Homo sapiens: one gene and its partners. The protein of the gene in region 1 interacts with the protein of each later gene in a pairwise test. Each region holds a gene or a part of one and is shown in the gene's direction. Other genes may lie near its edges.

Region 1 (7,247 bases):
AAAAAAAAGTAAAAAATAAAATCAGAATAAAGGAGCATCATTGATCATGGGAGCACTTCACTTTATCAGCTACAATTTGCTAACAGTAAAACTAGGAACTGTTTGCTATTTCCTGCATAGTGGCAGTTCTATGCTGTGAGTACACAGGATGGAGCAGGAAGAGGAGAGTGACTGTGCCTCATTATATACAGATATCAGAGATGTTCACTGTGAACCACTCCAATAGGTTGCCTTTCCTGAAAGTTGTTTGGGATGTTTTGCTCAGCATGAAGTGTTTGTTTGCCTTATTCCTGCCCAAACTGAGAGATAACTAGTGTGATGTGATTCAGATTTAAGACATGGCCTGTCATAGACAATCAAAATGATCTTCATGGTTCTGAGACATGTAAGATAGGAAAGAAGTACCAATCCCCACTAAACATCGCCCATGGCGGATAGGTATTAGCACATTCAGAGCTCATTTCTTTCAGTGGGCATTGTTTGAGCACGTGCTAGGCACAAAGCAATGTGGAGATAAAGAACTGACTGAGACACTTGTCCCTATTCTAAAGAAGCTTTTGGTCTAAAGGGAGTGATAGATAAGTAAACAACTAATTAAGCAGAATAAATAGGCACATAAAAGAAGATGGTATCCTCAGGGATCAGGAAAGGCTTCTTGGAGCACCTGGTGGATGAATTGAGTTGTAAAGAATGAGGATTTCCTTTGACGGAAGGGGTGGGGAGGGTATTCCTGAAAACAACAGGATTGGAACGGGGGCAGGACAGGAAAGGAGGTTCAGTGTCCCTGGGCCCTGGATCCTTTGAGGGCAGGGTCTGTGTTTCTAATCTGGGTACTGCCAGGATCCGGCACACAAATCAGGATCTTAGAAAGGTTTGTTAAAAAATGACAACTTATGACATTCCAACATGAGCAAAGGCCAAGGGACAAAAACATCTTGGTCTTTTCCAGGACAGTTAAAAAGTGTAGCTAGATCATAGGGTTTCCTGGTGCTCATAGTAATGAATGAGATTGGGATAAAGACCCAGTGAATGTGGCTTTGATCCTGTAGGATCTGTGGACCCACTCAGGGTTTCAGTGGAGGAGAGTCCTAGTCAGATCCATCCCAGGAAGAAGGAAGGCCACAGCTGTGCAGATCAGAAGGCAGGGAGTGAGGGACTGATGGTCAGGAGGCTTCACAGACCACACAAGACAGGGGAGGCCTGAGGAACATCTCGAAGTGAAGGTGATGAGTAATAGGTAGTTTCCCTTTAGAACCTTTATCTTCTAAGAGATCTAAAGAGTAGGGATTTCAGTCTTTCTGCAAATGTATTTCCTTAGCAAGAACACTAGGAATTCAGCCTTCAAGGAGCAACAAATGAAAGCAAGAGCTTTCGACAGGGAACTGCTTTTCTCGTGTTCTTCGTTCATTCTTCATTGTCAGAATACTTAGTTCCAGTTCCTCTCTAAGTTGATGCCATCATTCATTCTTCATTGTCAGAATACTCAGTTCCAGTTCCTCTGTAAGTTGATGCCAGAGCCTAACAGTTGACAGCCCATGTTATAGTTAAGGACCCAACCCAAGACAGAACATTCACTTTATAATGAACAAAATAGCCACTCAGCTTTCATGAAAAGCAGTCCATTGGTGAGACTCACAATGAACAACTCTGATCTCTGTTCACAATGAAGCACAGACACTCTTCCTTCCTGCTCTGGCCTTCGTGCCCACCGTGCAGAAACATCTCTGCACTGGCAATGACAATCCCTGGTCTTGCTGTAGGCAAATTACAGCTGATAAAGGTATTGCTGCCTTCATCGAGGGCTACTGGGAAGATTAAATGAGATTATGCCTCTAAAGCATTAGCCCAGTGCCCAGCCCACAGGGAGTGCTGGCTAAATGGTGGCTTCATGGTTATCATCATTGTTGGGTTGTGTGATGGGATAGGAAACGCAATCCTGAGAATTGAGTCTTGAGTCCAGATTTGACCACAAATGTACACATGAGCATTTGATGACTTGATGAAGTCACAAAATGTTTTTGAGTCTCAGGTTTCTCATCTTTCACATGGGAGCCATAACTCCTTCCCTACCTACCTCATCAAGCTGCTTTGAGAATCTAATGAGATTAGAGCATGGAAATGCTTGAGAAAGCAGAAGCCTCCATTCAAATGGGAGAGGTGGTAAGGTGCTGAGCTAACCTCAAAACCAGAGACAGCTTTGGAGGCATGAGGTCTGCCCCAAGGCTTATCTTCCTGCCACATGATATGCCCCATGGCACCCCCTCTGCTTTCCCACTCCCAGCCCCTGCTTCCCAGGAAGTGGCCACCAGCCTTTGGTAATAGCATCATCAGGGCCAATGCCTTCTCCCTTCTCCCTTCTCCCGAGCTCTGACGCACTTGAGGGGTTGGCTCCAGGTGACTTCCCGTGACATGGAAGCCTTGCCCTTCTGCCCAGATCCACTGCCGACAGTTAATTAGGAAGCAGATAATTAGAGCCAAGCCTAAAAGGAATCTTACAAAAGATGCCACCCAAAATGAGAAGGCTGTGGAAGGGGCCTGGAGTGGGGTGGCAGGGCGGCTCTGTGGTTTCCACAGCACCATCCAGTCTCAGCACACACAAGCCACCTTCTCCCCACCCCCTGAAGGCACAGAACCCAGCTGCCTCCTTCCGAGAAGCTGGAGGGCAGCCACTGTAGCACCCAGTGTGCCCTGAGGCTAGAAGAGAAGGGAGCATGCCCAGTAGATACACACAGTGGCCATGCATGCTAGCCAGTCACAAGATGTTGACTGTCTCCTGGATGATAGAACAGGCTGGCCACAGCACTGGGCTCAGTAGCATGTTACAGCTCCTACCCTCTGGTACCTTATAGTTGCACTGGGGAGACCGCTGGCCATGAAAAAATAACTAACGACGTAGTGGTATGTGGAAAGTGAGAAAGTGCCTGCAACTCGTAGGAACAGGCAGGGGTCTTAAGTTGGGCGCTGTGTCTTTTGAGGTTGAGGGAGGAGTTGGCATTGGCTTTGGAGCATAGCAGAATCACTGGCTCCTCAGGACAGTGGAGCCCATAGCTTTGACCTTACAGCTCAAGGAACACTAACCACTGGGCTTAGACCAAAGGTATTAGCTAAACAGATTACCAGCCCCAAGTAATGTAGAGTTGGCTGCATTTTCTCAAATTCCTTTTCATTCCAAATTCAGAAGATTCTAAACTGTGAGTGTTTTAACTGTTTCTAAATGCTTCTTCTATCCAAATCTTTCTAGTTCATCCTAAGCAATTTGTAACCTCTAGAAGGGTATTTTGAGCAGACCACAGAAAGTCCAGATACTTGAATTCAGCCTCCTCTTCCCTGGCCACCATGAAATCTGAGAACTAAATTGGAGCCTTGTCCCCAGCCTGAGATATTATCTGCCCAAGGTGTCCCATGGGCTGGAATGACTAGGCATGAACTTTGCCTTTTTTTTTCAGGGTCCTCAAAGTGTTCCCCCTTGCAGGATATGCACTCCAACCTTGTTTCTCCTTCCCTTTTTAAAATTCTTTATAGAATTATGGACCTGGATAGGTCATCTCATCCACCCTCCTGTTTCTGGGCAGAGCCATGCCTAATCCCACTCTAATAAGAAGAGAAAATAATTGTGGAATGGGAATGTCACCTCATGATCTCTTCCTTGTAGAGTGGACAGCTCAGCATTTATTTTTCCTCTGAGCCAAACACATCATTGATCTGCTACATATTTATTTTATTTATATATGTTATATTTTAAAGGCATACTGTAAAATACAAAGCTCTATACAGCTGAAAGGTGATATTAAATTCTAGTCTTTTCTATTGGATGTCATCTCCATATATATATATATGTATTTTTATATATATGTATTTATATATATGTATTTATATATATATGTCATTGACATGCTACATATTTATATGTGCGTGTGTGTGTATCATGTATTTATGACATATGTGTATGGAGAGCAGATCAAATAGAATAGCCAATCAGAAAAGATCCTTTTTTTTTTTTTTGAGATAGGGTCTCACTCTGTTACCCAGGTTGAAGTGCAGTCGCATGATTATGACTCACTACAGCCTCAAACTCCCGGGCTCAAGTGATTTTTCCACCTCAGCCTTCTGAGAAGGTGAGACTACAGACACGTACCACCATGCCCAGCTAATTTTTTTTAAGAGACAGGGTCTTACCATGTTGCCCAGGCTGGTCTCGAAGTCCTGGACTCAAGTGATCCTCCCACCTCAGCCTCCCAAAGTGCTAGGATTACAGGTGTGAGCCATTGCGCCCAGCCAGAAAAGATGTCTTGTATTCAGTAGCATCATGTCATACATGCATTTAATCTAAGTGAATTTGACTCTACATATTTGGCTAGAGGAAAAAGAGAGACAGCATAGATAAGACAAGTGACCATTGTCAAAGACAAAATGCACCAGACAATCAAGGAGATGGTTCGATTCTGGCTATTGCAATAGGGGGTTCATTAGTGAAGGTGGCCCCAAAGGAAGGGGGCCTACGGTTTTGTAGAGGCAGGCAAAGTGGGGGATTCTTCAGTGGATCTTATGGGAATCATGATGAACAATAGAGATGGGTTTTTTCTTAGAATATGCAAGAGTATAGTGGTCCTTTATAGGGAGACCATTACAGGGTGGGGGAGACTTATTCATTGCAGTTTCCTCTCCAGGAGCACAGGGCTCAGGTAAATTGAGTGTTGCACCATTTAAAGAAGACCTCTGCTCACCTTTCCACTCAGGCAGTGAGCTGTGCCCTGGACTGTGTGAGATGGGAGACCTGACCTCGCTGCACTCTGAGTCACTTACAGCTTGTTCTCTCAGTATGCATCGTGCTCCCCTGACCCTGATTTTAGTGTCAAAATATGCAGTTTTTTAAAATGTGGCCCTCATGCCAGTCAGGAACTTTATCTGGTGCTCAAAGAAATAGGAATTTGTTCCCACTGGAAGACAGACTGTCGATGTTGACTTTGGAAAGATGATAGCTGGCCCCCAGCATAGTGCCTCCAAACTCAACTGTCACTGAATTTGCTGATTTAGAACTTCTAGGACTAGGACTCAACTGTAGGGAGGAGCAAGTTGGAATTGAAGTCCTTCCCATGGGCGTTCGTAGCACGGGTGTCACTGGGGTGGGAGCCTTTGATGGTGCCTGACATTGCTGGTTTCCTGAACAGATCCTGCAGGAGTTGGAGTATGGCCCCTCCGTGGACTGGTGGGCCCTGGGGGTGCTGATGTACGAGATGATGGCTGGACAGCCTCCCTTTGAGGCCGACAATGAGGACGACCTATTTGAGTCCATCCTCCATGACGACGTGCTGTACCCAGTCTGGCTCAGCAAGGAGGCTGTCAGCATCTTGAAAGCTGTGAGTCACTGCCCCTCACCCATGGCTGTGCTCTCCTGGGCTCCTCCCCCTACACACACACACACACACACACACACACACACACACACACACACTCCCTTCTCCCTTTCTCTGTCCAGCTTTCTCCCTCCCACCTCTGCTCATCACCACGGAATGGGAAGGATTAAGGGCAGTTGCCACTGGGAGTTCAGGCACAGTGCAGAGGACTGCTGCCAAGAGAATGGGGCCTGAGATGACTTGCTCTTCTGGTGGGAAGAGGAGCGCATGTCTGTGCTTCCTGAGATGAGGCACTGTGTACATCTGTGTCCTCCAGCATTTCAGAGGGAACAGAAGCAACTCAACTGTGCTGACATCACCTCTGCCACTTCCATACCTTCCTTACCTGTGGCCTGTCTTCATCAGGGACCTGTGATGGAGAACAGAGAGGAGGGGAGGGAGGGTGGGCACCGCCCACCTGTGTCCACGACAGCATCACTGTGGCTCAAGAGCCAATCAGAAAAGATCTGGTACACTGGAAATTCATGCAGTCCTGCTGGATTTAGATACATAATACAGAGACTGACCCTGCCCTAGGAATCATCCCTCACATGGGAAAACCCCTTATGCTTTCTCAGCACAGCCATCTCTACGATGTAACAATGCTTGTACTGTGTCAAGCAAGTGATGTTACCTGTCCCCTTTTGAAATCCGTGAAAGCTGAGGTACAGGGAAGTTAAGCAAGCAGTCTGCCCAGGGTCACCCCTCTGAGCTAAGATAGGATGAGGGTGACAACCCAGGGACCATGACTTCTAGACTTGGCTTCTTCCACTCATCTGAATGCCCCAAAATTCAATCATTTGCACATTATAGTCACAAAATTTGCCATCTTCAAGTGTCTTCTGCACTATTACTAGCTTTTCTTGTTCTTTTAATCAACTTCCAATATTTACCTGATTATATGTATTTTACAAAGAAATTTTTTTTTTTTTTTTAGACAGAGTCTCACTGCAATGGCCAGGCTGGAGTGCAATGGTGCTATCTTGGCTCACTGCAATCTCCTCCTCCCAGGTTCAAGTGATTCTCCTGCCTCAGCCTCCTGAGTAGCTGGGATTACAGGCACCCGCCATCATGCCTGGCTAATTTTTGTATTTTTAGTAGTGACAAGATTTCACCATGTTGGCCAGGCTGGCCTTGAACTCTTGACCTCAGGTGATCCGCCCACCTCAGCCTCCCAAAGTGCTGGGATTACAGACATGAGCCACTGCGCCCAGCCTGTATTTTACAAAGAAATTTTATACCATTATCGTAGGTAGAAAATCAGTATCACTTGCCATAATGAATTAATGTAATTTTTTTTCAAGATGGAGTGTTGCTTTGTTACCCAGGCTGGAGTGCAGTGGCGTGATCTCGGCTCACTGCAACCTCTGCCTCTCGGGTTCAAGAGATTCTCCTGCCTCAGCCTCCCGAGTAGCTAGGATTACAGGCGCCCACCACCATGCTCAGCTAATTTTTGTATTTTTAGTAGAGATGGGGTTTCGCCATGTTGGCCAGGCTGGTTCCGAACTCCTGACCTCATGATCCACCCACCTCGGCTTCCCAAAGTGCTGGGATTACAGGTGTGAGCCACTACACCCTACCTAATGTAAATTATTGTATAAAAATTTTTGAAAGATCTAAAACCATTTTGTAGGTATCTGAGGGTGCATGTACCATGTTTTAGAAAACTCCACATCAGAACATGTTACCCTTTTCTGTAGTTTTTTTTTCCTCCTTCCTTTCCTCTTTCCCTCACCTCATTCCTTCTCTCCCCTCTGCCCTTACTCTCCTCCCTCTCTCTTTCATTCATTCATTCAATGAACTACTATCTATTGAGCACTTCCAACATGCTAGGCATGGTGCTAGATGCTGAAT
Region 2 (5,971 bases), on another chromosome or scaffold:
TTTAAAAAAAAAAAAAATGCCGGGTGCAGTGGTATGTGCCTGTAATCTCAGCTACTTGCAAGGCTGAGGCAGGAGAATTGCTTGAACCCAGGAGGTGGAGGTTGCAGTGAGCTGAGATCACGCCCCACTGCACTCTAGCCTGGGTGGCAGAGCGAGGCTTCATAGAGCAGGACTTTGTCTCAAAACAAAAAACAAAAACAACAGCCAGGTGTGACAACGCATGCTTCTCAGACGGCTGAGGTTGGGGGATCTTGAGGCTGCAGTGAGCTTCGATTGCGCCACTGTATTCTAACCTGGATGACTGAACGAGATGCCATCTCTTCAGGGAAGAAAAAAAGTTGTAACAACAATTATGAAGAAGAATGGTCAAACAGCTGTGGACTCGTAATGGTCATCCCCAGCTCAGATGCTAGTATCTCTCTGCCTGTTGATGGAGGGAAAGCATGCGGAGAGTTTGGGGCGCGGGATTGACTTCAGGAAATGATACACCTCTCACCTCTGGGGACATGTTTTTGAGAGTAAAAGTAATAAGTAATGAAAGTGACCTGACTTGAAAGTTTTTTCTGTGTGTGTGTTTTATTTTTTTTTTTTGAGATGGAGTTTTGCTCTTGTTACCCAGGCTGGAGTGCAGTGGTGCTCTCTCAGCTGACTGCAACCTACATCTCCTGGGTTCAAGTGATTCTCCTGCCTCTGATTCTCCTGCCTTATCCTCCCTAGTAGCTGGGACTACAGGTGTCTGCCACCACCACTCCTAGCTAATTTTTTGTATTTTTAATAGAGACGGGGTTCCACTATGTTGGCCAGGCTGGTCTCCAACTCCTGACCTTGTGATCTGCCCATCTCGGCCTCCCAAAGCGCTGGGATTACAGGTGTGAGCCACCGCGCCTGGCTGATTTTTTGTTTTGTTTTGTGAGACGGAGTCTCTCCCTGTTGCCCAGATTGGAATGCAATGGTGCGATCTCGGCTCACTGCAACCTCTGCCTCCTGGGTTCAAAGGATTCTCCTGCCTCAGCCTCCTGAGTAGCTGGGATTACAGGCGTGCGCCACCATACCCAGCTAGTTTTTTGTTTGTTTAGTAGAGGCAGGGTTTCACCATGTTGGCCAGGCTGGTCTCTAACTCCTGACCTCGTGGTCCACCTGCCTCGGCCTCCCAAAATGCTTGGATTACAGGCGTGAGCCACTGCGCCTGGCCATTTTTTTTTATTATTATTATTTTAATAAAAACATATGCTGGGCACAGTGGCTCATGCCTGTAATCCCAGCAGTTTGGGAGGCCGAAGTGGACGGATCACCTGAGGTCAGGAGTTTGAGACCAGCCTGACCAACATGGAGAAACCCCGTCTCTACTACAAATACAAAAATTAGCCAGGTGTGGTGGCGGGCACCTGTAATCCCTGCTACTCAGGAGGCTGAGACAGGAGAATCACTTGAACCCGGGAGGCAGAGGTGCAGTGAGCCAAGATCACTCCATTGCACTCCAGCCTGGGCAACAAGAGCAAAACTCTGTCTCAAAGAAACGAAACAAAACAAGAAAACACATTTGATACCAACTCATAACCAAGTCTGGATTACTTCTGTAGCTCATTATCACTGATAACCAAGAGTTGATTAATCAAAGTAGACTACCTGTCAGTCTATGTACAGAACTAAAGATAATCCTTATTCTTGGTTGTCGAGTACAGTTTTAGGAAATGGATCATCTTAAAATAGGGTAATACGGCCTGGTGCAGTGGCTCACGCCTATAATCCCAGCACTTTGGGAGGCCGAAGCGGGTGGATCACCTGAGGTCAGGAGTTCGAGACCAGCCTGACCAACATGGAGAAACCCCATCTCTACTAAAAATACAAAATTAGCCAGGCGTCGTGTCACATGTCTGTAATCCTAGCTACTGGGGAGGCTGAGGCAGGAGAATCGCTTGAACCTGGGAGTTGGAGGTTGTGATCAACTGAGATCGCGCCGTTGCACTCCAGCCTGGGCAACAAGAGAGAAACTTCGTCCAAAAAAAAAAAATACAGGGTAATACTTTCGCAGTTTTTAAAAATCTAGTGAAATTCGGCTGGGCGCAGTGGCTCACGCCGGTTAATCCCAGCACTTTGGGAGGCTGAGGCGGGCGGATCACGAGGTCAGAAGATTGAGACCATCCTGGCTAACACAGTGAAACCCCGTCTCTACTAAAAATACAAAAAAAATTACCCGGGCGTGGTGGTGGGCGCCTGTAGTCCCATTTACTTGGGAGGCTGAGGCAGGAGAATGGGGTGAACCCAGAGGCGGAGCTTGCAGTGAGCCGAGATAGCACCACTGCACTCCAGCCTGGGCGACAGAGCAAGACTCCGTCTCAAAAAAAAAAAAAATCTAGTGAAATTCATTTGTGTTCAATTCCTTATTGAGTCTGTAAATCAGTTGATTAAATTTGGTTAAGAAGAGTAATTTTCACTTAATTTTTATTAGGTGAAATACTTTTTATTTATATAATGCTTCCAGTCATGAAATAGTTCAACAGTGAAAAATTCAGGTGGTCTGTTGACATTCCGGTACAACTAACAAACTCTGAATACACAAATAATTGTGGGTACAAAGAAATTGTTCATCAGTTTGAGAAGTTGAATTTGTCAAAAATTAGAGTTTTTGAGATGGAGTATCACTCTGTTGCCCAGGGTGGAGTATAGTGGCGCAATCTCTGCTCACTGCAGCTTCCACCTCCCGGGTTCAAGCGATTCTTCTGCCTCGTCCTCTCTGAGTTGCTGGGACTACAGGTGCCCACCACCACGCCTGGCAATAATTCGTATTTTCAGTAGAGACAGGGTTTCCCCGTGTTAGCCCGGATGGTCTCAATCTCCTAACCTCGTGATCCACCTGCCTCAGCCTCCCAAAGTGCTGGGATTACAGGCCCGAGTCACCGCACCTGGCCTAGTATTACATCTTTTTTTTTTTTCCTTTTTTCGTGAGACAGAGTCTTGCTTTGTCACCCAGGCTGGAGTGCAGTGGTGCTATCTTGGCTCACTGCAAACTCCGCCTCCCGGGTTCACGCCATTCTCCTGTCTCAGCCTTCCTGGTAGCTGGGACTACAGGTGCCCGCCACCATGCCCGGCTAATTTTTTTTTGTATTTTTAGTAGAGGCGGGGTTTCCCCGTGTTAACCCGGATGGTCTCAATCTCCTAACCTCGTGATCCGCCTGCCTCGGCCTCCCAAAATGCTGGGATTACAGGCGTGAGCCACTGTTCCCGGCCTACATTTTTTAATAAATTGGTTTTGAAACTGCAATGGTGCCTGCCTGTAATCTCGGCTGTTCAGCAAGGTGAGGCAGAAGGATCACTTGAGCCCAGGAGTTTGACACCAGCTTGGGCAAGATAAAACTTCATCTCACAAAATAAAATACTACTTTTGTGACTTGGGTTCCGTGGTGAATATAGGAGAATCGTCATGAAAGTGGCAGTTTACTAGGATGTGACTTTGCATTTAGTTTAAGGATTATTTAGATTTTTTTGTTTTTTAAAGAGACGGTATTTATGTCTTTTAATTTTAGAATATGTTAATGTCTGTCCCAGCATGTTGGAACATAATTTCTTTAAAGGGAGGGATCATTGCTTTTTCTCAAGTGATTTTAGTCTCTTCACCCTGTGGTAAGAGGATTGTTTCATATACGAATCCATAGGTAGGAAATACATGTTCTCCCTGCCTGTTCCCCTCTCTCCAAAATGTAGATACACTGGGCAAAGAAACATAGCCAAGGAATCCTTTTTCCCCTAATATCTGTATGTCTTTCAAGAGGATATTACTTCCTTCTCAGAGTAGAAGGGAGGAGGAGTAGACAGATTGTTGCTTAGAGTGAAGTTTACACGAAGTAAGACCAAAGTCCGGCTCCTGTATCATTGTTTTCCTTTGTCCTGCTCTGTTGGTTTATTTTTCTTGTAATGTTGCTTTCATATGATTGTTCTCCCTCCCTTTTTCCTTGCAATATAGATTCCTAAAGGAAAACCCAACTCTTCCTTTCCTAAAAACTCTACTTTGTAAGTCACGTTCATGGCACAGTGAATTCCGCTTTCAGTTTTGGTTCTTCACTAATCATGCCTGCGTATGATCGTCCTGTTGCTTACAGACTCTGCCTGTTCCACCTTCCAGGGCGCTGACCTAAGCCTTTTCCGGCCTGCTCCTCCTGCCTACTGTGGTTGGATGTGATGTATATGACAGTGACATTTTTATGCCAAAGTTACTTGGAACTTCTGGCACATCTCATGGTTGCTTACAAGCGAGTTGTGTTCTAGTGTTTGTGTTAATGATACTTTGGCAGTGATTTGCTGTTAGAGTGAATGTTCCTATCATGTTTCCTACGTTTGAATACGTTATTGTCCTTTGGAGAACAGTTGGGTGCCCATCAGTTCTTTCATCCCTAAGCAATTTTTTTTTGCCTTTGCATATTTTTTTTCTGTCTTATGAATTAAAGATCTTCATGTATTTTAAGTAGTTTTAAAATTTTATACATTTTTTTGAGACGGAGTTTTGCTCTTGTTGCCCCGCCTGGAGTGCAGTGGCGTTCAAAGCTCACTGCAGAAATAGAACTCCCCCACCTCAGCCCCCCAAGTAGCTGGGACTATAGACATGTGGCCCCATGCCCAGCGTATGTAGTTTTTTTTTTTTTTGAGACGGAGTCTCGATTGTCGCCCAGGCTGGAGTGCAGCGGCAGAATCTTGGCTCACTGAAAGCTCCGCCTCCTGGGTTCACGCCATTCTCCTGCCTCCCGAGTAGCTGGGACTACAGGCGCCTGCCACCATGCCTGGCTAATTTTTTTTTTTTTTTTTTGTATTTTTAGTAGAGACAGGGTTTCACTGTGTTAGCCAGGATGGTCTCGATCTCCTGACCTCATGATCCACCTCTCTTGGCCTCCCAAAGTGCTGGTATTACAGGCGTGAGCCACCATGCCTGGCTCCAGCATACATAGTTTTTTACTTTTAGTTTTATTTATTCTTTTTTTTTTTTTTTTGAGACGGAGTCTCACTCTGTTACCCAGGCTGGAGTGTAGTGGCATGTTCTTGGCTCGCTGCAACCTCCGTCTCCTGGGTTCAAGCAATTCTCATGCCTCAGCTTCCCAGGTAGCTGGGATTACAGGCATGTGCCACCACGCCAGGCTAATTTTTTGTATTATTTTTTCAGTAGAGATGGGGATTTACTGTGTTAGCCAGGATGGTCTTGATCTTCTGACCTCGTGATCCGCCCGCCTTTGCTTCCCAAAGTGCTGGGATTACAGGCGTGAGCCACCGTGCCCGGCGTTATGTTCATTTTTTGTAGAGACAGGGCTTCACTGTGTTGCTGAGGCTGTAAGTGGGTTTTGAAGTCACACAGCAATGTCAAGCGTTTCCGCCGCAGAAGAGATTTGAAAACTACTGAAACCTTGATGCTGTGACATTTGTCATTTTGAGATCATTTAGGCTGTTTCAAAGCTGTACTCAGTGTAAATGCTTCATGTGTGTAGGCAGCTAGTTTGGTGTTATTTGTCCATCCTAATTAAATAATTTAACAAGCATTATGAATGGATAGTCATTTGAACATTTATGATTCTTGGGTTGATTTTTCATTTATTTTGTTTCAAACTAGTTAACTGTGTAGTAATTGTAAGTGGTTTTTTTAAAAAAGTACAAGTGAATGTAACTTTTACCTGTTACATCATTTTTAAGGGAAAAGCCTGCATGCTTCTTTATTTTGGCTGACTTGTTTAATGCATACTAATAGGTAGATGACCCTCCAACCAATAGGTGGCTTTCTGTTGCATGTCATAGTGCAGTTGAAACTCCTTAGGGTAATCACCCTCTTTAAAGGCAAAAGACAAATAGCATGAGTGAAGTGGTCCAAATGCCATTCTTTAATAACCTCAGTGGTCTGATTTACTTTGAGCATGCTGTGTTTCACTCTGAAGTAAAATCTGATTATAGTTTGGTGTATCTGGCCAAGATACAAAAGCTGAAATATTTATAACAG
Region 3 (6,529 bases), on another chromosome or scaffold:
CGATGTTAAAACAAATTAAAAACACCTAAGTGACTACCACTTATTTCTAAATCCTCACTATTTTTTTGTTGCTGTTGTTCAGAAGTTGTTAGTGATTTGCTATCATATATTATAAGATTTTTAGGTGTCTTTTAATGATACTGTCTAAGAATAATGACGTATTGTGAAATTTGTTAATATATATAATACTTAAAAATATGTGAGCATGAAACTATGCACCTATAAATACTAAATATGAAATTTTACCATTTTGCGATGTGTTTTATTCACTTGTGTTTGTATATAAATGGTGAGAATTAAAATAAAACGTTATCTCATTGCAAAAATATTTTATTTTTATCCCATCTCACTTTAATAATAAAAATCATGCTTATAAGCAACATGAATTAAGAACTGACACAAAGGACAAAAATATAAAGTTATTAATAGCCATTTGAAGAAGGAGGAATTTTAGAAGAGGTAGAGAAAATGGAACATTAACCCTACACTCGGAATTCCCTGAAGCAACACTGCCAGAAGTGTGTTTTGGTATGCACTGGTTCCTTAAGTGGCTGTGATTAATTATTGAAAGTGGGGTGTTGAAGACCCCAACTACTATTGTAGAGTGGTCTATTTCTCCCTTCAATCCTGTCAATGTTTGCTTTACGTATTTTGGGGAACTGTTGTTTGATGTGTATGTGTTTATAATTGTTATACATTTTTAATTGAGCCTTTTATTAACATATATTGTTATTTTTGTCTCGAAATAATTTTTTAGTTAAAATCTATTTTGTCTGATATTGGTGTGAATGCTGTACCTTTCTGACAATAAATAATATTCGACCATGAATAAAAAAAAAAAAAAAGTGGGTTCCCGGGAACTAAGCAGTGTAGAAGATGATTTTGACTACACCCTCCTTAGAGAGCCATAAGACACATTAGCACATATTAGCACATTCAAGGCTCTGAGAGAATGTGGTTAACTTTGTTTAACTCAGCATTCCTCACTTTTTTTTTTTAATCATCAGAAATTCTCTCTCTCTCTCTCTCTTTTTCTCTCGCTCTCTTTTTTTTTTTTTTTTTACAGGAAATGCCTTTAAACATCGTTGGAACTACCAGAGTCACCTTAAAGGAGATCAATTCTCTAGACTGATAAAAATTTCATGGCCTCCTTTAAATGTTGCCAAATATATGAATTCTAGGATTTTTCCTTAGGAAAGGTTTTTCTCTTTCAGGGAAGATCTATTAACTCCCCATGGGTGCTGAAAATAAACTTGATGGTGAAAAACTCTGTATAAATTAATTTAAAAATTATTTGGTTTCTCTTTTTAATTATTCTGGGGCATAGTCATTTCTAAAAGTCACTAGTAGAAAGTATAATTTCAAGACAGAATATTCTAGACATGCTAGCAGTTTATATGTATTCATGAGTAATGTGATATATATTGGGCGCTGGTGAGGAAGGAAGGAGGAATGAGTGACTATAAGGATGGTTACCATAGAAACTTCCTTTTTTACCTAATTGAAGAGAGACTACTACAGAGTGCTAAGCTGCATGTGTCATCTTACACTAGAGAGAAATGGTAAGTTTCTTGTTTTATTTAAGTTATGTTTAAGCAAGGAAAGGATTTGTTATTGAACAGTATATTTCAGGAAGGTTAGAAAGTGGCGGTTAGGATATATTTTAAATCTACCTAAAGCAGCATATTTTAAAAATTTAAAAGTATTGGTATTAAATTAAGAAATAGAGGACAGAACTAGACTGATAGCAGTGACCTAGAACAATTTGAGATTAGGAAAGTTGTGACCATGAATTTAAGGATTTATGTGGATACAAATTCTCCTTTAAAGTGTTTCTTCCCTTAATATTTATCTGACGGTAATTTTTGAGCAGTGAATTACTTTATATATCTTAATAGTTTATTTGGGACCAAACACTTAAACAAAAAGTTCTTTAAGTCATATAAGCCTTTTCAGGAAGCTTGTCTCATATTCACTCCCGAGACATTCACCTGCCAAGTGGCCTGAGGATCAATCCAGTCCTAGGTTTATTTTGCAGACTTACATTCTCCCAAGTTATTCAGCCTCATATGACTCCACGGTCGGCTTTACCAAAACAGTTCAGAGTGCACTTTGGCACACAATTGGGAACAGAACAATCTAATGTGTGGTTTGGTATTCCAAGTGGGGTCTTTTTCAGAATCTCTGCACTAGTGTGAGATGCAAACATGTTTCCTCATCTTTCTGGCTTATCCAGTATGTAGCTATTTGTGACATAATAAATATATACATATATGAAAATATGTATTTGGTTTCTGCCTCCAGTTCTTACAAAGAGCTCCTAAAACCCTTGTAATTTCCTGAGTAGTAGGGGTGCTAGGGTCATCTTTTGTTCTAATATTTGGTCTTTGACTCTGCTTTCTGACAGAGCTCCTTAGTCCCTGGGTGAGAGTAGCATCTTCTCTTCTAATGAAGTGACTCTTGCTGGGTTCCTGGATGGGGGCTGGTCACCAGAAAGGTCAAGCCATGATAAGAAGCTTGAAGCTTTTGGCCCCATTCACATCTTCTGGGGACGGGAGAGAAGAGGAGCTGGAGATTGAGTTAATAAGCAACAATGCTTCCATGATGAAGACTCCATAAAAATCCCTAAAAGACAGGATTCAGAGTGCTTTGAAATAGGTGAACATGCAGAGGTGCTGGGAATTGTGGTGTGTCCAGAGAAGGCATGCAAGCTCCCCACGCCTCCCCCATACCTTTCCCTGTGCATCTCTTCCATCTGGCTGTTCCTGAGTTGTATCCTTTTATAACAAACTGGTAATCTAGTAAGCAAACTGTTTTCCTGAAGTCTGTGAATCACACTAGCAAATTATCAAACCTGAGGAGAGGGCCGTGGAGACCTTGGATTTGTAGACAAGTCAAACAGAAGCTATGAGTAACATGAGGACTCATTGCTTGTGATTGTCATCTTCAGTGGGAAGGGGAAAAATCTTGTAAAACTGAGTCCTTAACCTGTGGGTCAATGCTAACTCCAGGTAGATAGTGTCCGATTTGAATTACGGGACACCCAGTTGGTAGCCACAAAGAATGGGAGAATTGCTTGGTGTAGAAAACACACCCCACACACACATGTGGTGTCAGAAATGAACCGGAAATATTGTGTTCCGGAAATATTGAGTGTTGTGAGTGAGTGTATAGAAAGAAAAACAGCGTTTCCTTTTCACTACTAGATTAAAACAAACACACTCATGCATTCACACATCTCAAAGACAACTATTAATTCTCAAAGACAGTGCTGTCTAAATCCATACTGAGGAAGAAAACACATTTTCTTTTCAAATCTGTAAACCTGACAGACTGCCTCTGTCCACACACTAATGGAACTCTGTGTTTCATCTGAAATGTGTTCATCCCACTTTGTTCTTTCTGTCTTGGGCAGGGCAAGAGTGCAACAGGGCTGACATTTTCATATGAGCTCTGTCCCTGTTATTGGCTATACTTTAGACAAATTATTATGTGTCAAATATAGATGTAAGTGATTTATCAATATTAAGTCATTTAATTCTCAAAACAACCTTAATAGGTTCCATTATGATTCTAATTTTACACATAAGCCAAAGGAGGCACCCACAGGCTAGATAACTTTCCCACGGCCACACAGCTAGTAAGCGGCAGAGCCAAGAGGCCCAACATTACAGCACCACAGTCTGTGCTCTCAGCCCCTTGGCCACATAGTGTCAGAGTGAGGACACACAGCTATTTAAGAAAACTTCCAGAAGTCTAGGAAATGGGGTGATAGCCCCACTTTTCTAGGTATAATAATTAGATATTTGTTTTTCTTCAGGTACCTAAAGAAAATTTACTAGAGTTTGAGCCTTTAGTAAGTTTTGCTAGTACATCTGTTTTTCTTCAGGTGCCTGAAGACAAACATATACACACACACACACACACAAACACACACAAAATGTGTATCTATATATATGTGTACACATATCTCTCATCTCTATATATATGTCTCTGTATATCTATATATCTATAAACATATCTATATCTATAGATACATATAGAGAGATTTCTTTTTTTTTTTTTTTGAGATGGAGTCTTGCTCTTGCCACCTAGGCTGGAGTGCAATGGCACAATCTCAGTTCACTGCAACCTCCGCCTCCCAGGTTCAAGCGATTCTCCTGCCTCAGCCTCTCGAGTAGGTGGGATTACAGGAACACACCACCTTAGCCCGACTAATTTTTGTATTTTTAGTAGAGACAGGGTTCACCACGTTGGCCAGGCTGGTCTCAAACTCCTGACCTCAGGTAATCCACCTACCTCGGCCTCCCAAAGTGCTGGGATTACAGGTGTGAGCCACCATGCCTGGCCAAGATTTCTAATTCTAAGAGAAATTAGCACCTGATAGGTATTTCCTTGTAAATAAACCGGGCATATCCTGATTATAGAACTAAGTTAATTATTTTCCGTGGAAGATACGAATGTTGATGCAATAAGAGCAGCAGTCTACAGTAAGGTGGGCTTTGTAATTTTCTGTGTTGAATCATGGCATGGGTACTTGGCTTATGTCAAATAGACAAAAAAATATAAATTAAGGTATAACTGGGATTGTCAATTATACATATTTAGTAATGGAATGAATGAATTTATAAATAGATAGTAAAGGGCATGAATTAAGAATCTATAGGTATAAATAATATTAGCAACTTAATATTGTATAATAAAGTTTGATTTTCTAGGTGTAGTTGATTGATGCAGTAATGTTCGTTTTATCCTTTGAGTAAGCCTAGAATTGAAGAACCCAAAATGCAATAGAATAGATATAACATTGAAACTATTCCTAAATATGATTTTAGTTCCAATGTTCTTTGTGTAATTACCTAAGCTTTTCTTTAATGTTTTTGCTGCTACTACAGTATCCTTAATTATTTGAAATCTTATATTGGAAGCAGTTAAACCACATTCCTTCAAAGAGCCCTTAGTTTGAGCCTCTAGTAAGTTTTGCTAGTATAATTTGGTTTTAAAATTGGCTAGAATTGCATAGGGAATTTCCATAACGTATAGTTGATCTGCAACTATAGGTTAACATACTAGGATGGCTTCTCTTATGAACCTTATGAAAATACATCCTCAGATTCCCTGGAAGGTCAGTGACCAGAAATCCTCGTTGTTTCTATGGCAACACAGCAAGATATGGTGCCTTGGAAATGTGCTGCATTTTAATTAGGTTCCTCTAGGGCTTCCTAACTGCCTTTTGCAGGTAAACTAAATATCAGATTGCCTTTTATCTTGCAACAAAATGAAACCTAACCCATGTCTGTAAATGTCAAAGCTAAGCTGTGTTCCAGTAAAGCTGAATCCAAACAAATATAGTAGCAAGTCATGTTTTTATCTTAGAAAAGAATACAATACTCTTTACCTAGAATAGTCAAGGATGCTGCTTAATGAGGTAGGTTAGAGTAATAGAGACTATCCTGAACTCCAAAACTATTAATAGACTATGGAACTTCGACTCCCATTTATGTCTCTTACTACTTAATATTAGTGTCTCTGTTTCCTTATATGTAAATATGCAAATGATAAAAATAGTGCCTCATAGCATTGTTGCATGCATTAAGTGAGTTAATGTAAGTGGAATACTTAGGACTGCCTGGCTGATAGTAAGTGATCTATGAGTCAATGATGCTATTTATTAGTAGTAGTACTAGTACAGCACACTGTATTTTTAAAGGTAAATAAGAAATAACAATTTTTTTAAATGTTCATATACATTCACATGTCTTCTTTTAATATAAAATAGCAATCAAGATCAGGATAATGGTAGAGATATTTTGGAGACACAAGGCAGAAGCTATTTACTAATAGCTAGGGGAGCATTTTACTAGTTTACTAACCAATATTACTATACTTATGTGTACTTAGCAGAATATCACCTAGCACCAAAAAGAAATTAAGAAAGTGTAACTTACTGAGAAGTGAATATGCACCAACTCCATAAACACTATGTTTATGGAACACATCTAACTTTAGACTTAGCTATACTCATCGACTCACATATCTTCTCATCCAAGTGGGATGTGTTTAATATTTACCATATATTCATAAGTTCACTGAGTATTGTTCTGGTAACTAGAAAAAAAAAAGGACAAGCATATATAAGTAAAACTCACTGATTTAAAACAGAGTATTATCAACTACAAAAGAAAAAAAAAACCACTTGAACCTCCACTGATTTCTCAAATCTCATTTATTTCCCATTATCTTCCCTCATACCTCTTGCATTTATTTGGTTAAATTTCTTTTTGATCCAAAAGGAAGCAATGTTTACCTGACAATTTCTACTTTATGCCAGAACAACAAATGTACCAGCAATTACAATATTTCCAAGAAAAGTATTGTTTGTTTTCTCTTCATGTCTTTGGTGAGTCTCTCGGAATTAGGATCAAAAAAGAACGCATGAGCTGGTGAGATGTTTGTTATTGTCCTCTGTCAGATTTTCCTGTGCAGCAGTGTGGAAAGTAGGTAAGTAGGGCAGTGCATACTTGTCCTT
Region 4 (7,247 bases), on another chromosome or scaffold:
TCCAGCCTTATGGATGAGCTAAAGATGTGCCCTAGTAAAAAACTCACCCTAGTAAATGGCTTTGAATCTGTTTTAATGTGCAGCCAGAGAGTAGCATGAAACCCCAAAGCTCTACCATGCTCTGTGTTATGGTCACAGTAAATTGAGCCTGGAAGATTTTTCATGCGTGTATAACCAGTTGCCCACCTGGCGGAAAAACACAGGGCACTCATCAAACTTTGTCTGGCTTTGAGCAGTGTGATTCCTGGTTTATCTTTGCTGATAAACTACTTGCCAAACATACACTGAGAAAATTAGATGAAGGAACTCGTTGAATAGGATTGTTATTTTATAAGTCAGTTGAAAATGATGGACCACTTACCAAAAGTAATATATTCGATTACAGAATAGGTGATCTGTAGCCTTTCTTTTCTGGCAGGAATTAGTAAACAAAGGCATTCCTTATTAGTCATAACAAAATTATGGTACCCTAAAGTTTTAAAAATAATAATAATAAACTGCCTATCTCAAACTTAAGAGAATGATATGTACTAGCTTATACAAAATGGCATCATGTTATTAATAAGAAACAAGTTAACAAAAAGTAGGGCTAGAAAATACCCTCTTACACCCCACGTAAAAATTTTTAATCACTCATCAAGAGCCTTTCTCCTTTTGTGACTCTTGCAGAATTAGGTGCTGATTCTGAGTAAACATCAATATGGTGACAAAGAATTTACAGTGGGAGATAGTTATTGAATAGCAAGGTTTATGTTATTGTCAGAATTTTAAAAATGCTGTGACTTTGCGATACTCATTGCTATGACTTCTCCTGTTAATAATCTGCCTGGAAGTCTGGTGTCTGATGCTTACCAACAATTACCATGTGGTCGCTTAGGGATGATAAGTGATGTTAATGAGGTCAAAGGCAGAATATCAGTTGACTAGAGCGGCATACTAGAAATCAGGAAATTCAACTTCTGGCCTTGGCTGGGTCAGTGATTTTATGATATTTGTCATATCTTTTGAACATTCTGTACCTTGGCTTCTCCATCTGTTAAACTGAATTCATAATAACTGTCCTGGTCTGTCTCACAGGAATGTTGCATGGACAAATTAGATAAGTGTAAAAGTGCCTTGGAGGTAAAGCTGCTCTATGAATATAAATTAGTGTGATATAGCTACTGAAAAGTATGTTGCAGAGGCTAGAATGGTTAGTCTCTGCAGGCTTCATGACTAGATAAGGCTTCATAATGGATTCCTGCCAAGCAAACCAAGCCCATCTTATCAGTTCATGACCATAAAGTATTTAATGGGGAAAAAAATCTCTTACAAACATTTGTTACCTTGATACAAATGTGTGTTAAAAATCGGTCATGTTGGGGAGGGGGGAGAGGGAAGTTGGTGCACAGTGGGTATAAAATTTCAGTTATACAAGATGAATAAGTTCTAGAGATCTGCTGTACAACATTGTGCCCATAATTAACAATACTACATTGTACTCTTAAAAATCTGTTAAGAGAGTGGATCTCATTTTAAGGGTTCTTACCACAATAAAATTAAATTTTTGAAATAAATCAGTCATATTTGAGTGAAATGAAACCTTTCTGAGTAGTTTCAGACAATTGATAATACCTAGTTTACAGTTCCTGTAGTCATTTTGGAGGGTGAGGACTTGATGTGTTTAGTAAAGTTGAGAAATAAATACATGAAAGAATGTGTGGGGAAGAGAAATTGTGGGGAAGAGAAATTGTCTCAGGTAATAGTTATTACTATTTTTAGCACTATGACTTACCAAATTGAAGTTTTTGTTTGTTTCTTTTGTAGAAGTGTCAAAGTCTCATCTCTGCCTAAACCATATATTTTTTTCTGGTTGCCTCATGTTCTGTCACAGTCACAGTTAACATCCTCATTCTCAATCCTACCCATGATGCAGACAGATTGCCTCATTTCAGCTCAATAAAACATCACCAAATTCCCTTAGGCAGAAAAAGGGTGGGGAGTGCCCTTTCTTGAAGGAATCCCTTAAGTGCACGTCTCCCGTTTTCTTTTCACATCAATGCAGAGTCCCTCTGTGAATTTACAACACCCAACACCCATGAGTTCAGTCCTTAAGAAGGAAAATTGAGCAAGTATTTAATTGGTTGGACATTGCATAAAAGAGGTCCATATCCAGGCTAACTCTAGAAATTTTATTCTCAAACTTAGTTGGCCTCTTTTTCTTCTGTCAGAGGACCATTCTTAGTGGCACTGGGGAAATCTTGGCACCCAGAAGAATTCAACTGCGCTCACTGCAAAAATACAATGGCCTACATTGGATTTGTAGAGGAGAAAGGAGCCCTGTATTGTGAGCTGTGCTATGAGAAATTCTTTGCCCCTGAATGTGGTCGATGCCAAAGGAAGATCCTTGGAGTAAGTATTGGAAACGTTTTTATTCTGAATGAGTTTTAAAGTAGAATAATTTTTTGATATGAAAGTCTTCTATCACTTTAACTTTTTATTTTCTTCTTGCTTTATGCCCTCTCTGCTTTCGGCACTATTTATTATTGTAAAGCAAAACTAAATAGACCTCTGTGGAAATATATCGGACTCATGGGGTTAGGTTGTCTTTGGTTTTGTCTCACTGAGTGCTGGCTTGTCTGGTGAAAGTCTAGCCACTGTGGGGAAAAAATAATTTACTGTGGGTGTGCTTCCTCAACAGGAGCCTGTTTGCTCAGGAATGAAGAGGTCGCATAGGACCACACACATCTGAGTTCTTAGAACTGACACCTTCACTGTTTTAAATTAAATTCCATAGCTTTTATAAGAGCAGTATTTCCCTACTTGTCAGAGTTCAAGCACAGGACACTGATTTCATGAAATATATAAAACATGAGGTTTATAAATGATATATTTTTCTTGAATACATACAGTGTTTAAAAATATAACCTCAGTTTTATGAGAGTGCACATGTGATGGAAAAATAATTTTTTTTCCTTTTTTGCAAAAAAAGGAGTAATTTAGGAATCAGATACAGTACATAATAAATAATGAATACATGAATTTCTTGCTCTGGAATACCTAGTTTCCAATGATAAAGTAAGGGTCAGGCATACTTTATGGTGACTAGGAGCTGGAATCTGATTTCAGAAGAAGCCAGAGTACCTGGCTTCACACAAAAATTGGACATGGCCCTGCTGAACTCTAATATACTCTCAATGTGAAAATATGATAATGAAACTCTAATTATTGTTAATTGAGAGAATAGGTAGTATGAATTATTGAGTAGTCTTAAGATATCTCTTAGGATATCCTTAAATATGTCTGAAACGTTGAAGACACTTAAAATTATATATATGTCACCTGAAATATTTCTAGATTATTGATTTGTGTAATATGTTGGGAACAAAGAAGTGGAATGGTTCAGACTGTACCTTCCCAAATGATAACAAATAATTAATAGAATATTCATTAATACTGTTTTAGTGTATCAAGGTATTCTATAAATGTTAGAATAACAAAACAAAGTGAAGTTAGAGTCTTAGACCCAAATAAAGTTCTGGGAAATGGAAATCTCATACTCATTGCCTTGGAGATGGGCCAGAACTTCAATAGCTTGTCTAGATTGTATTTTAGTTATTTGATTACCTGTTAAAGATTTCTCTCAAGGATGGAAAGGGAAGAATATTCTGGAAGCCTTGGGAGATAGTTTGATTCAATATACATCTTCTACAAATGTTCATGGTGAATTTTTTGGATCTAAATGTCTGTTTCTTCCCATTGTCCTTCAGTAGTGAACTGTGACAATTTCTATGGCTAATAAGTCTATATTATTTCATTTTATTTTGATATTTTTTATAAAAGAAAATAGTTCACTCAAGCACAATTAGAAAACACAAAAAATTTAAAGAATAAATTTAAATGACCTAAATATTTACCAATCACAGATAATTACTGTTAACCTTATGATGTGTTTTTTTCTAGTTTGCTCTTTATAAGTAATGTGTTTACAAAATTGTAATCATGCTTTATGTATATGATTTTTTGTGATAAATATTATAGAAAGAGTATTCACTACTCATCCAAAATTATTTTAATGGCTCCATCTTTCTCTCAATCCAAAGAAATGATTTCTTGTAAAACCAACACCCAAAACCTCTTTTACTAACTAATATCTGGCCCAAATCTTTATAACTTGGTATGTTTAACCATTGGGCCATTGCTGACTAGAATATGGTCCAAATTTTACACATTCGAGTCTGTGCTTAGTGCCATCTTAGCTGATTTCCAAAAGCCTAAACACGTGTTAAACTGATTGGATTACATTATATTTTTATTATATTTTATTACATTATATACATTTATATACATTATATACATGTAATATATACAACTATATATAATTATGTATATTTTATTATTTTTATTTATTTATTTATTTTTTTGAGACGGAGTCTTGCTGTGTCACCCAGGCTGGAGTGCAGTGGCGCGATATCGGCTCATTGCAAGTTCCACCTCACGAGTTTATGCCATTCTCCTGCCTCAGCCTCCCAAGTAGCTGGGACTACAGGCACCCACCACCACGCCCAGCTAATTTTTTGTATTTTCAGTAGAGACGGGGTTTCACCGTGTTAGCCAGGATGGTCTCGATCTCCTGAACTCGTGATCCGCCCGCCTCGGCCTCCCAAAGTGCTGGGATTACAGGTGTGAGCCACTGCGCCCGGCCCCATTATGTTTTGTTATTAAATTATATATATTATATTATTGCTTCTAAAATGCACCAAAGTATAGGTTTGTTTTAATTTTTAAATGCTTCCTCCTTCCCCCAGAACTTTTGCAGATAATACCATAAAACCTTGGTAAGTTAATGTTTCCTGACACCCTTTGAGAAGAAGCAGAAAGTTTTGTAGCAAGCATTTATGAAATGCTTACTTTATTCACTGTACATATAATGTATAAATAACATAGTGATCATTCTTTAAGTTTATTGATTGGCATTTGTAAAGAACACACGTCTAAATATGCATCCGTTTAGATGATTTGTGAGTCTGTTCTTAAGTATCTCTTGTTACTTTGAGGGAAAGCTCAAGACAAAAATGAAGTATGTGTGCCTACTTTGGATTAGCTCTACAGGGATTTACTGGTACAGATATTAGAATAAACATTTATGTATTTATTGTCATCTTCTTTTTTTACATCCAATTACCTTTCTGTAACAGGAAGTCATCAGTGCGTTGAAACAAACTTGGCATGTTTCCTGTTTTGTGTGTGTAGCCTGTGGAAAGCCCATTCGGAACAATGTTTTTCACTTGGAGGATGGTGAACCCTACTGTGAGACTGGTAAGATCAGGGAGCCATTTGTTTCTTGAATTTTGAATAAAGGTAAAACATTAACCCTTATATTACTATAAAGCTCAAGAAAATATTAGGCAAAGTTATTTTCTTAATTGTTTTGGAAGCATTTAATGCTGCTCTAAGCATGTAGAAAAAACTATGTAGATTTTTTTTTTTCTTTTGAGACGGAGTCTCACCCTTGTTGCCCAGACTGCAGTGCAATGGCCCAATCTCGGCTCACTGCAGCCTCTGCCTCCCAGGTTCAGGCGATTCTCCTGCCTCAGCCTCCCGAATAGCTGGGAATACAGGCATGTGCCACCATGCTCGGCTCATTTTGTATTTTTAGTAGAGACAGGGTTTCGTCATGTTGGCCCGGCTGGTCTCGAACTCCCGACGTCAGGTGATCCACCTCCCAAAGTGCCGGGATTACAGGCATGAGCCACTGCGCCTGGCCCTATATAGACTTTTTAATGTGACTTTGTCAAAACAGATATTCCCAACTTTATTATTAGAATTGAGAATGTAAGCATTACTTAGTAGGAAAAATATTTTGCTTGAATTCCCAATGATTTGTGGATATAAATTCTACTAAATCATGTACCTTAAGTCCACTTCTTGTAGTCCAGTAGTGAATTTTGTAAACATCAGAAATGTTCCACTTTAGAATATGATATTGATTTGCCCTTTAAGGCGACTGCCTTGAAAATAAACTGGAGATCGTTTGTTACTTTTACTGAATGAGAAGGTAATCCTGACTTGGATTGTTCCCTTGGTAAAATGATTTTTAATAAACTAGACTAAAAGGACCTATCTACTGCATTTGTCTTATTACACAAACTCAGAACGTTTCCTTTTCCTTCCCAAAGTCTGTAAGTGAACTTTTATAACATTTATTAATAGTGCCCTTACTTAGATATTACTACCACATATACATGTTTCAAAATACAAAACATTTTTCCTTTATTGTGCCTCTATTCACTACCAGTGCATTCTCACTACTGAGTTTTATTGTTATTCTACCTTGAAATTCAAAGCTCTGTGCTGATAGAAGGAGGTATTCCAAAATAATGGAGTTAAAGGAGCAGTCAGCTTCTAAGTTGAAGCTGTGTCATCATCATTCAGCCCTTCTTTGCCCACTCAGTATTCTCTTATTTTCATCTTCCTTTCAGCTCCTTAGTTTAAACCAACCTGGATATATTCCAGACTGTCTCCCAGGAACCCCAGAAATTCCAGTGAAGTACCCCATGGGCTGTTTTGGGACAGGTTGGCCACAAGCTGCCTTCCTCAATTCAACCAGAATACTTCATATTTTGTAATTCCACTTAATTTTTCTGAAGAAAGGGCTGGGTTTTGTTTGTTTGTTTGTTTGTTTGGTTTTTAGTTTGATTTGTTTGTTTTAGCAGCTTTGGAAGACATTTTGACTAACTGGCAGGTAGCCCATATCTAGCCAAAACACATAAAACAGTCTAGCCTTAATACCTATATTTAATGTATTTGAAGTCATATTTTAAATACTAAATAATTACTTATAGGAAAGGAAAAACATTATTGAATATTTATTTAAATGTCACATCTAATCAACTTGGTCTGTTTTTGTTCTTTTTCTTCTTTTAACCTCCAAACCATTTCTTAACCCAGTTTCCTCTATCTCAATAAATAACCCCATCGTCCACTATCCAAAAACCTGCAGGCCATGTTGGATTCTGCTTTTCCCCTTGTTCTTTCCTTATCCAATCTAAATAGGAAATTCTGGCAGCTCTACCTCCAACGTATATCATATTCATTTATTTCTCTCCATCTCCACTAAAGCTAACTAAAGCTAAAGTCACTGAAGCTAACTTGCTTTCACCCTTTTTCTGGACATTGTAATTGGCACCTAAATGGTATAGCCCCTCACCTTCCTTCCAACCTCCAAACAGCAGGCATAGAGCAGCTGTAGTATATATGTGTGTATG
Region 5 (3,500 bases), about 56 Mb from region 1:
GTTATCACACTTAGAAAAATGTCATATATTCACTATTAACGTTTTCTTGATTGTCTCATACATCAGTAAAATGTGTTTTTTTTTTTTTTTACTATAACAAGTTCTTTAATGTTTACAAGCGGGTACTGGGAACTTCAATCTTAGAAGTGGTGAAAATAGCAGAACATCTCTTTTTTTCCTCTTTTTAACTATTTAATTTCTAGAACCATTTACAATTATGTGTAGGAGTTAATTTAGGATTTTTGTTGGTATGATTTGCTTGTGGTAGATTTGGGATTACATTATTAACACTTTAGAGTTTGTTTATTGCTGCTAAACATCCTTTAGGATGAATAGCATTAAAGTTTGAGAAATACTTGTTGCTGAATTGTTATTTATAAAAAGGTCTTTATTTTTAAACATAATTTCAGGTAAAAAAAATCTGTAAGCTGAACAACTTGTCCTAATTTATTTTAGTGTCATATTTTCTATTTTTCATTAGCGCAGATGTTGCTTATTTTGAGGCAACTATATTTACATGAAGTGAGTGAGTTGAAAAGAGGGAGTTTTCTGAGATTTGATATGTCGTATGAAATAGCTTCTTTTGGGGCGAACGACTCTCCTGCAAAACTGTGCTAATGGTAGACCCCTCATTTATGGAAGAAAGGGAGGGGGAGGGGTGTGTGTGGCAGTAGGGCTAAGAGTGACCTTTGGGAATGGTAGAAAGGTTAGGGAGTAGTGGGAATTTCAAGGAGATGTTATTTGGACTTGAGGAGAGACATCTTCTTTAAGCATTGAGGAGCCACTGAAAGGTTTTGTTGGAATTGGGGATCCCTGAGAGTAGGGGACTTGATCCAGTTTTTTGGGGATAACTTCTAATTTTCTGTGTCTCTGACAACAGTGGTAAATGGTCTGGTATAGTTGAACAGTATGTAACTTCATCTTAAAAGAAGGAGGTGAAAAACGGGGTGTATTCTGTTTAGAGAAATTTATTTTCACCCTTAGGTTTTTGAGAGACGGATACTCATAAACTTAAAATTGTAAATTTCTCTTCACAAGGTTACATTCAGAGTACCATATATTTATAAGAGAAGTGTCTGGTATGATCAGTGAGGAGAATGATAGTGTGAAAAATTAAAACCAGAAATAAATCAAGTTTGTTTCCATGTTATTTTGGATTTTATTGTTATTTTGTTTTGAGACGGAGGTTTGCTCTGTTGCCCAGGCTGGAGTGCAGTGGCACCATCTCTACTCACTGTAACCTCCGTCTCCCGGGTTCAAGTGATTCTCCTGCCTCAGCCTCCTGAGTAGTTGGGATTACAAGTGCGTGCCATCACGTCCAGCTAATTTTTGTATATAGAGATGGGTTTTCACCATGTTGGCTAGGCTGGTCTTGAACTCCTGGCCTCAAGTGATCTGCACGCCTTGGCCTCCCAAAATGCTGGGATTGTATACAGGCATGAGCCACTGCACCCGGCCTTATTGTTATTTTAAATATTTATTTGACCATTTTTGTGTTCTTGGGGTAACTACTGTTATTTTGCATTTTGTGAGCATGTGATGGCTGGTGTTCCAAATGTCTTGAATAAAAGATTGTCAACCGGACGCGGTGGCTTACGCTTGTAAATCCCAGCACTTTGAGAGGCGCAGGTGGGCGGATCACTTGAGGTCAGGAGTTCGAGACCAGCCTGGCCAACATGGTGAAACCCCGTTTCTACTAAAAATACCGAAAAATTAGCCGGGTGTAGTGGGGGGTGCCTGTAATCCCGGCTACTCAGGAGGCTGAGACAGGAGAGTCACTTGAACCTGGGAAGTGAAAGTTGCAGTGAGCCGAGATTGTGCCATTGCACTCCAGCCTGGGCAACAAGAGTGAAACTCTGTCTCAAAAAAAAGAAAAGAAAAGAAGATTGCCAGCCTGAGGACAATTCTGAGTCTTGGAAGGACTGACAGAGGGGAAATCCGGTAACAGTAACGTGGAAGTCAGGGAGTTTAGAATCCAGCAGGTAAAATGTCTGAAATCAAGGTTCACTCAAAGGAGGGACCATAGATTTTGTGGAAGACTGACCCATTCTGATCTTGTCATTGGAGGAAGGGTACAATGTGGACCTTGGAGATTGAGGACAAGGGTACCCTAGGCCCAAAGACCTTGATGGTAAGGGGAGCTAACGCTAAGAGTTTGCTCATTCGATGCCCATTTGACACTGTGCTCATGTTAGACCCCTCATTTATTGAAGAAAGGGAGGGGAGAGGTGAGGTGTTTGTGTGTGGCAGTAGGGCTAAGAGTGACCTTTGGGAATGGTAGAAAGGTTAGGGAGTAGTGGGAATTTCAAGGAGGTATTATTTGGACTTGAGGAGAGACATCTTCTTTAAGCATTGAGGAGTCACTGAAAGATTTTGTTGGAATTGGGGATCCCTTAGAGTAGGGGACTTGATCCAGATGTGTGTTGGGAAGGAGCTGGTAAAATGGTTGGCCTTGGGCAGTGGTCCAGTGACAGGAGGTGAAGGCCGAGGCGGGATAGTGGCAGTGGTGGTAGAGAGGAGGAGAGGTTGGGGTGGATACTTGGGCATTACTCTTTGCTAGGTTTAACATGTTGAATTCACTCGTTCTCTGCAGGCTTTGGTATGTCCCTTTAAGTGGGTACACGGTTTGCCCACAGTATTAGGAGGAGCTTTGGGATTCCCAGCACTTTGGGAGGCTGAGACGGGCGGATCACCTGAGGTCAGGAGTTGGAGACCAGCCTAGCCAACATGGCAAAACCCCATCTCTACTAAAAATATAAAAAGTAGCCAGGCGTGGTGGTGTACGCCTGTAATCCCAGCCACTTGGGAGGCTGAGGTGGGAGAATCGCTTGAACCTAGGAGGTGGAGGTTGCAGAGAACTGAGATCATGGCACTGCACTCCAGCCTGGGCAACAGAATGAGACTCTGTCTCAAAAAAAAAAAAAAAAAAAAAGGCGGGGGTGGGGTGGTTAAAGTGCTAAAATTGCTTTCGATTGCTCAGTGGTAAAGTGCCATATAGATTGTCTGGCTTTTAAAAATCATTAGGGGCCGGGCACGGTGGCTCACACCTGTAATCCCAGCATTTTGGGAGGCCGAGGCGGGTGGATAACAAAGTCAGGAGTTCAAGACCAGCCTGTCAACATGGTGAAACCCCATCTCTACTAAAAATAGAAAAATTAGCCGGGCGTGGTGGCGCGTGCCTCTAGTCCCAGCTACCCAGGAGGCTGAGGCAGAAGAATTGCTTGAACTTCCCCAGGAGGTGGAGGTTGAAGTGAGCCGAGATAGCACCACTGCACTCTAGCCTGGGTGACAGAGCCAGACTCCTCCAAAAAGAAAAAATAAAATAAAAAAATTTGCATTTTGGAGCAAGTACTTAAACTTTTGTGAGGGATTCTCTAAGTGTTATCTTTTAAGTGTAGCATCTCTCGTTCTTAATTGGAGGTAAAGACATCCACTGGGGCAAAATGAATTTTGTAGAACCAGATGTTTTCATTAGGAGGAGATTGTGTCAGCTGATCTGC

The links.
Region 2: the proteins of PRKCE (region 1) and YWHAE interact in binary tests that used the Homo sapiens proteins (3 or more experiments, as listed by UniProt).
Region 3: the proteins of PRKCE (region 1) and SNCA interact in binary tests that used the Homo sapiens proteins (3 or more experiments, as listed by UniProt).
Region 4: the proteins of PRKCE (region 1) and PDLIM5 interact in a two-hybrid assay, tested with the Homo sapiens proteins (one study listed by BioGRID).
Region 5: the proteins of PRKCE (region 1) and MAP4K4 interact in a two-hybrid assay, tested with the Homo sapiens proteins (one large-scale study listed by BioGRID and IntAct).

What each region holds. Positions count from the first base shown.
Region 1 is NC_000002.12:46,145,873-46,153,119, forward strand, and holds part of PRKCE (protein kinase C epsilon type), read left to right. Parts: intron 1-5,168; coding exon 5,169-5,357; intron 5,358-7,247.
Region 2 is NC_000017.11:1,345,999-1,351,969, reverse strand, and holds part of YWHAE (14-3-3 protein epsilon), read left to right. Parts: intron 1-5,971. UniProt on the Homo sapiens protein: Adapter protein implicated in the regulation of a large spectrum of both general and specialized signaling pathways. Binds to a large number of partners, usually by recognition of a phosphoserine or phosphothreonine motif.
Region 3 is NC_000004.12:89,719,852-89,726,380, reverse strand, and holds the end of SNCA (alpha-synuclein), read left to right. Parts: 3' UTR 1-2,282; downstream 2,283-6,529. UniProt on the Homo sapiens protein: Neuronal protein that plays several roles in synaptic activity such as regulation of synaptic vesicle trafficking and subsequent neurotransmitter release.
Region 4 is NC_000004.12:94,652,250-94,659,496, forward strand, and holds part of PDLIM5 (PDZ and LIM domain protein 5), read left to right. Parts: intron 1-2,210; coding exon 2,211-2,391; intron 2,392-5,177; coding exon 5,178-5,298; intron 5,299-7,247. UniProt on the Homo sapiens protein: May play an important role in the heart development by scaffolding PKC to the Z-disk region. May play a role in the regulation of cardiomyocyte expansion. Isoforms lacking the LIM domains may negatively modulate the scaffolding activity of isoform 1.
Region 5 is NC_000002.12:101,700,707-101,704,206, forward strand, and holds part of MAP4K4 (mitogen-activated protein kinase kinase kinase kinase 4), read left to right. Parts: intron 1-3,500.